2 linked regions of the Homo sapiens genome follow. The protein of the gene in region 1 purifies or fractionates together with the protein of each later gene. This does not show direct contact. Each region holds a gene or a part of one and is shown on either strand. Other genes may lie near its edges.

What was found.
Region 2: the proteins of UPRT (region 1) and CDKAL1 purify together in Homo sapiens (affinity purification with mass spectrometry; one large-scale study listed by BioGRID and IntAct). This does not show direct contact.

Annotation. Positions count from the first base shown.
Region 1 is NC_000023.11:75,294,424-75,298,244, forward strand, and holds part of UPRT (uracil phosphoribosyltransferase homolog), read left to right. Parts: intron 1-139; coding exon of another isoform or gene 140-197; intron 198-595; coding exon of another isoform or gene 596-624; exon of another isoform or gene 625-1,918; coding exon 1,919-1,988; intron 1,989-3,067; coding exon 3,068-3,130; intron 3,131-3,821.
Region 2 is NC_000006.12:20,544,234-20,548,054, reverse strand, and holds part of CDKAL1 (threonylcarbamoyladenosine tRNA methylthiotransferase), read right to left. Parts: intron 1,717-3,821; exon of another isoform or gene 1,710-1,716; 5' UTR 1,705-1,709; coding exon 1,532-1,704; intron 1-1,531. UniProt on the Homo sapiens protein: Catalyzes the methylthiolation of N6-threonylcarbamoyladenosine (t(6)A), leading to the formation of 2-methylthio-N6-threonylcarbamoyladenosine (ms(2)t(6)A) at position 37 in tRNAs that read codons beginning with adenine.

The sequences.
Region 1 (3,821 bases):
TACTAGATTTACAAACTAAGTGCAAATTTAGTTTGGGAAAGAAAGGAATGAACAGGGCTTCTTAGCCCCAAAGTTATAATCAGATTAAGGTAGATGATTAAAAGGAATGTGAAAAAAAGGCATGAAACTTTTCATTTAGGTTTTGCCTGAGGATTTATTCCAAAAGAGCATAGACAACTCCTGTTCTGCTTTTCATCGTAAGTATTCTTGGTTCAGAGACCAATTTTATTTAAAATTATTTGAGTTTTCATTGGCAGTAATAACCCTTAGATAGTAACAAGATAAATGTGGTTGACATTCCTGGAGCAATAGTTACGTCATTCTGTCTTTTATGCTTTTATCAAACCAAAAGAACAGGCTTGAAGAACTTGTATCTTAATGGCTGCTGTTTTGGTGTTTACTGGTAGAAAACGGTTCCTCTTTCTTTTGCTGTTCTTATGCTCTTTTTCTATAGAAAGTAGGAGTTAAGTTCACGGTTATTGTAAGATGCTTCCCTGAAAGGGCAAGCATAATCTTAGCCCAGTGAGATAGTAAGGACCTATGGCATAATTCACCTGAGGGGATAATGATTTGGATCTCTCTCTGTTCTCTGCAGGTGGCTTTCAAGGTCCTGATATGGGGTGAGAAAGGGTCTGTTGTGGTTGTGGTAGAGACTGGAGCTATTTAGGTTTAACTTCTTGAGGATTTCTAGTACACTATCTCCTGCAGCACATGTCATTAATATATATTATCATATATATATTAATTTCATCCTGAATTTGTCAGGGTTGGCTTCCTTGGCCCTCAGATCCTTGGGTTCTTTATATTTTAGTCACTCTTCTGATTTTATGCACTCCTGTAAGAGTTGGGCACACTAATTTCTGTCCCAGTGTTGGAGGGGATGGGGATAGGAGGTAAGACTCATTAGAGGACTGTTACTAGGAGGAAAAGATCTAGGCTCTTCAAAGAAAATAATCCTCTTTTACCCTTGTAATTTGCTCATAAAAAAAAATCTCCACAGAAGATGGTGGCTGGAAGTGAGTATGCACACATGTGCAGTATTCATGAGGTGCCTGGGCCCTCTGTCTGATGCTGCAGGCTGACAAAATCCTGGCTTATTTAGAATTGATTGTTTTAATGGCAGCAGGGTGTTATTATATGTTGTGATAACAGAGCATAGGGCCTGGTGCTGCTCCCTGCTGTTGCAGATTCTCAATCAGTAATGTAATGTTGATTGGATAAAATGTGCATTGCAGACTCAGCATTACTTTTACTGTAGTTGGCTTTGGTTGTTCATGGAATTACCATATCTTGTTTTTGGAGGCTCTTGTAGTAGTTCTGAGTGATGCTTTCCTTTGTACCACACATTATGATTGATATGAGCCTTTTCTTTAGCTGAGAAGCCCCAGTGCATTTTACTGGATCCTCCTTCAAGCTCAGTAAATTGGTTCAGCCAATGCACTCATTTATTTCCTCTAAAGAAGTTTCAGGCTTTATTTACATTATAGTGGGCCTTTGTTAAAAATAATCTGACTTAATGATTTCCAAGGTACTGAATAAAGCAGAGAAATTCCCAGTGAGCACTATTTCCAGAATAATAAGAAGTATATTACTTCCAAGAGTGCTTGCCATGACTGTTGTCACTTGCTGGAGTTTTGTGTCCCTCATAGTCTGGACTGACAGAATGAGAATCAGAAGGAATATTGGAGCCTTTTGGTGACAATCATGGCCTATCTGAGGTTGGATACCTAGCAGCAAGTAGTATGGCATTTGGATCTATCCCTGTATCTAACACATGATAGGGGGCCCCTTACTGCCTCCACAAGTGAAACCTTTGCCTAGTGTGTTCATGACTCTGCCTACTGTTCAGCTCCTGAAGCTAACAGCTAACAGGAGATTCCCAGCAGGTTCTCAACTTCTTCTTCCTTTGACTCTCTAGATCAGACTTGTTGTGGAAGAGGGATTGAATCAGCTGCCATATAAAGAATGCATGGTGACCACTCCAACAGGTAACTAGGGCTGTTATTCTCAAATTTTCCTCATAAAAATTCTGAGCTAGAATGGGGAAAGATGTAAGTAAAGCAGTCTAAGTAAAATAAATATGCAAAATGAAGGGCTAGGTGGAGCTATTCTTTTAAAATCTTAAAAATAAAACTCAGGCATTTAGGAAAGAAATCTGTGTAGATGACTTTTTGTTAAGGGCTTGCTTGTCAATTCAAGTTAAAGGTTAACAAATACTCTTCAGCATGCACGTGTTGCCTCTAATGATGGCCCATTGAGACCATAGTTAAGAATTGCTGGCAGCTTATCTTCATCTCTATGGGAAAGCTGCTGGTGAGCACAAATGGGCAAGTCTGTTTTGGCACTGAAATTACATGTTAAAAAAGGATAGAAAGTAAAAAAGAAAACTAAAAATGATAAGAATTGGAGAAGGTGCTTTGTTCTATCCTTTAATAGAAAGTAGCCAAAGATCCCTGTTTCAGGGATTTGAAATTATGATTTGGTTCAGTAAATAACGTAAAACTGTTCTATTCAAAGGGTTTACTTTATGAAACTTGGGGACTGAGTTTGTAGCATCATAATTGACACAAATTCAGGATGAGACCAAGAGTTGAGCATGTCTTAATAACTATTTCAGCCACTTTCTTCTGCTTTTAAGGCAGAATGGAGGCTCATAAAGAAGAACAGAGGCTCATAAAGAAGAATGGAATGAGGAAGCTTTCTGCTGTGGCTCACAGTGGGGTCCCAGTTTGAATTGATGGGGTATATAGCATTCTCAGAGTGCAGTGATTCTCTTTGAATTCAGTTTGAGGAATGTGTATGTGAATATCGTGTTATAATAAGTCCTATTCCCATTCAATGAAGTCTGCCTCTCCCAATTATCCCCACAGGTTTCTTATGAAGAATTAAGAAATAACTGAAAAATCATGACTCATCTCATTATTTCCACAGGGAATCTCAGGCATTATACAGTGTGTCTGAACAAGGGTTGCTTTGTGCCCATCTACTTTAAACCGTAGACACTTTATAAAATATGTAGGTTACTCCAGTGATGAAAGATAAATTCTTTGGTTTTATTTCCTAACAGGGTACAAGTATGAAGGAGTGAAATTTGAGAAGGGAAATTGTGGGGTCAGCATAATGAGAAGCGGTAGGTTCACGTGTGTGTGATTTTTGTCTCTTTGTATGCATAGAAATGGTTGCTGTTTTCCAGAAGAGAGGCAGGCTTGTCTGTCATAATTGCAGCCTGCCTTTAGTTAAATCTCACTACCTGTGTTATCTAGCCTCATGGTGCTGTGGAGTCATGGCCTGTGTGAGGCTAGGTTTGGCTAATTTTAACTACAGAGCGTATTCCCTAATAGAGTGCTCCCATGGGCAAGCCAGCTTTCAAAGAGATTCAGAGGAGGATGGGAGGATAGGAGGATGTGGTGATGCTATCTTGGGGAGAACAGGTCAGTTTGAAGACTGAGGGAATATGGTATAAATTCGGGCTTGGAGAACTTTGAATACCTGACTGGAGAAAATATTTCTTCTGTTTTTATTTCTGTTGTTGGGCTAAATGACTTGTTTGATATTTTTACTTTTTTTTTTTTTTAGACAGGGTCTCACTCTATTGTCCAGGCTGGAGTATGGTGGCGTGATCATAGCTCGCTGTAACCTCAAACTCCTGAGTTCAAGTAATCCTCCCACCTCAGCCTCCTGAGCAGCTAGTACTACAGGCACATGCCACTATACCTAGCAAATTAAAAAACAATTTTTTTTTTTTTTTGGTAGAGATGAGGTCTTGCTATGTTGCCCAGGCTGGTCTAAAACTCCTGGCCTCCAGTGATGCTCCTGCCTCA
Region 2 (3,821 bases), on another chromosome or scaffold:
AAAATATCCTTTTTCTCTGAATTGCATTTTAAATTCATACTACTAACTTACTAAGTTCAACTCCTGGAAAGGTACACAAAAATAACAATAGGAAAGAAAGTGGTTCTAGCAGCAATGGCAAATAAAGAAAAGTATGTCTGTTTACAGATTCCTACATACTAGTTGCAATCTGTAGCTTCCTTAAAACTTACAGATATAAGTAACTTAATCAAAGTTAAAAACCGTCATCCTAAAGCATTATTAAAAGCACTCTATAAAATCAGAGTTCTAAAAATAACTTTTAGGGGAAAAAAGGACTTTCAACTTGGATTGCTCTAATAATTTATAAGTAAATAAAAATTACCTTAAGGACACATTTAGGACAAATTTTATAAACTTCAGTCATTAAAATATAAGCAAATTTTAAATTCCAAGAATTTAAAAGCTTAGTTTCCCAACAAAATAAGCAGATTATAAAGTTCAGCAGTTGACTAGATAAACAAATATAGGCTTATTAAAACCATATAATTACATTATCCTTTCTGGTTAGGTTGTATCAAAATTTCACGGACTAGAGATCTACTATAATAGCGTAAATAGGGCAATAATTTATTTGTGCCCACTGCCTTTACCTGATCCACAGGTATTTGAAAATCAGCTAAGAAAATTCAAATGTCCAAAATACTACTGTCTCATAAGAATCACAAACTCTGGTAAAAATTTTATTTGGAAATAACACAGACTTACATATCAACTACAGTAATACCCAAGAGATCCCTATTGCCCGAGGCTATCTTCTAGGAACATCCAATTTGACATCTCATTTCTTTTTAACCAATTACCTTGCCAAATTTAAAATCATTCAAATAAAAAAAAAATCTACATACAGGTTGAGTTTCTTTAATTCAAAAATTCAAAATCCACAATGCTCTAAAATCTGAAACTTTTTGAGTGCCAAAATGATACTCAAAGGATGCTCACTGGAGCATTTCAGATGTTTGGATTAGGAATACTCAACTGGAAAGTATGTAATGCAAATATTCCGAAATCCAAAAAAAAAAATGTGATATCTGAAACACTTCTGGTCTCAAGCATTTCAGATAAGTGATACTCAACTTGTATTTCCTATCAAAAGTTCAAAGATTCTAATGAAGAGACATTATATATATCACACAGACCAGTAGCGTCAGCTTCTCCCTGGAATGAAAATGAATATAATTTCGGCCGTGCTCAGTGGCTCAGGCCAGTAATCCCAGTACTTTGGGAGGCCAAGGTGGGCAGATCACCTGAGGTTAGGAGTTCAAGACCAGCCTGGCCAACATGGTGAAACCCCATCTCTACTAAAAATACAAAAAATAGCCAGGTATGGTGGTGTGTGCCTGTAATCACAGCTACTAGGGAGGCAGAGGCAGGAGAATAGCTTGAATCCAGGAGGAGGAGGTTGCAGTGAACCGAGATCACACCACTGCACTCCAGCCTGGGCGACAGAGCAAGACTCTGTCTCAAAAGAAAAAAAAAGAAAATGAATATAATTTCAAGGAAAAAAGCTTACCTGTCACTTGGTGGACTGTTTTCTTCCTCTTGCAAATATTTTTGGGTATTTCGCCTTCGTACCTTCGGGACAACATCCTTTCTTACAAAATGCCTATCTTGTGGTTTTGAATCTTCCTGAGACACGATATCTTCGATGTCATCCAGTAGTGTATCACAGGATGCAGAAGGCATATTCTCTACCACATAAAAGTTATAAATAAAATCAACTTATGAAAATCTGCTTAGCGTAGCATCATTTATGAAATATTCTCACCAAATTTGAATCTAATCAAGCCTTTGGATCTAACTTCAAATTTATAGAAAATACAAGAGATAAAGAAACACAAGGATGAAGTACTATCTTGGGTATATTGAAAAAAGAAACACAATGAAACAATCAGACAAAACCCTAATGACAATGGGACATTCCAAGGTTCAACAGGAACTATTTCTTCAACAAATCAATGTCAAGTAGGAAAAAGTAGGAGAGGAACTGTTTCAGATAACAGGAAGCGTAAAAGCCTAACAACAAAATGCAGTTCATGTTCTTGATTGTTTCTTCTTTGTCTGTCAAGCTATAAGAAATTTTGGGTATAACTAGGGAAATCAGAATATAAGCTGGATATTAGATAATATGAAGAAGTTATTATAAATCATTCGATATAAAGTATTGTCCTTATATTCAAAAATTTTATTTTTTAGAGATGCATATTGAATATTTAGAAGTGAAATGTCATTATGTCTATAATTTACTTTAAAAGGACCTCAGAAAAAATAGACTGGCTAGCCACAGTGGCTTATGCCTGTAATCCCAGCACTTTGGGTGGCTTATGCCTGTAATCCCAGCACTTTGGGGAGGTGGGCGCATAACTTGAGGTCAGGCGTTTGAGACCAGCCTGGCCAACATGGTGAAACCCCATCTCTTTTAAAAGTACAAAATTAGCCAGGCATGGTGGTGTACACCTGCAGTTTTAGCTACTTGGGAGGCTGAGGAAGGAGAATCGCTGGAACCCAGGAGGCAGAGGTTGCAGTGAGTCGAGAGTGCACCACTGCACTCCAGCCTGGGCAACAGAGCAAAACTCCATCTCAAAAAAGAAGAAAAAATAGATTAAGACATACTGAAAAGCATTTACAACTCTTAAAACTAGAAACTAGATAGGTTCATGTTCATTATCCTATACGACTTTTCTAAATATTCAAAATTTTTATAATTAAAAGAAGAAAATGTGGACACAGCTTGCAAGAAGATAAGCACATTTTTCCCTGCCCCGCCAGCAAAATACAAATAAAACTCTGGACATTATATATAAAACAAGCATAAGGCAGACTGGCTATGAACCTCAGGACCCAAGGAATATGATGAGTTCCTTGGGTTTTCTTCTGCCTCCTACAGCTCACTAAAGATCCCAGCAATCAGAAATGGCAAGAGATGCCAACAATAAAACCCCCCAATAAAAGCCTGCTTTCTCGTTAAAGAACTATACAAAGGGCAGCCTAGGAAGACAGAAAAGTTTTAGATAATAATCATTCTACTCCAGCCAAACACAAACACACACACACACACACACACACACACAAAACTGTAATCCCACCCCCAGGCACGCTACAAAGGCCAAGTGGGGAGAGCTTGGACTTCTACCTACAATCAAGCACCCCAACACACTCCACTAGTGTAGAATCAGAGAAGGACCTGGAGGGATCCTGGACATTCAAACCAACCAACCGACCAGTAATGAAGTTTTGCAGTGTCAGTGGAGACCAAACTGATACACAAGTTTAAAATAATCCCTATCAAAATCCCAGGAAGATTTTTTTGTAGGTATAGATAAGACTATCCTAAATTTTATATGGAAATGTACAGAAACTAATATATTTAAAACAATTTTGAGAAGAGTAAAGTAAGAAGAACTGGTCTACCCAATTTTTTTTTTTTTTTTTTTTTTTTTTGAGACGGAGTTTCGCTCTGTGGCCCAGGCTGGAGTGCAGTGGCGCGATCTCGACTCACTGCAAGCTCCGCCTCCTGGGTTCACGCCATTCTCCTGCCTCAGCCTCCCGTGTAGCTGGGACTACAGGCGCGCGCCACCATGCCCGGCTAATTTTTGTATTTTTAGTAGAGACGGGGTTTCACCGTGTTAGCCAGGATGGTCTCGATCTCCTGACCTCGCGATCCGCCCGTCTCGGCCTCCCAAAGTGCTGGGATTACAGGCGTGAGCCACTGCGCCCGGCCTGGTCTACCCAATTTTAAGACTTATTAGATAGCTATAATTGAGACCGTGGTATTGGTAGAGGGATAGAAATATAGATCAATG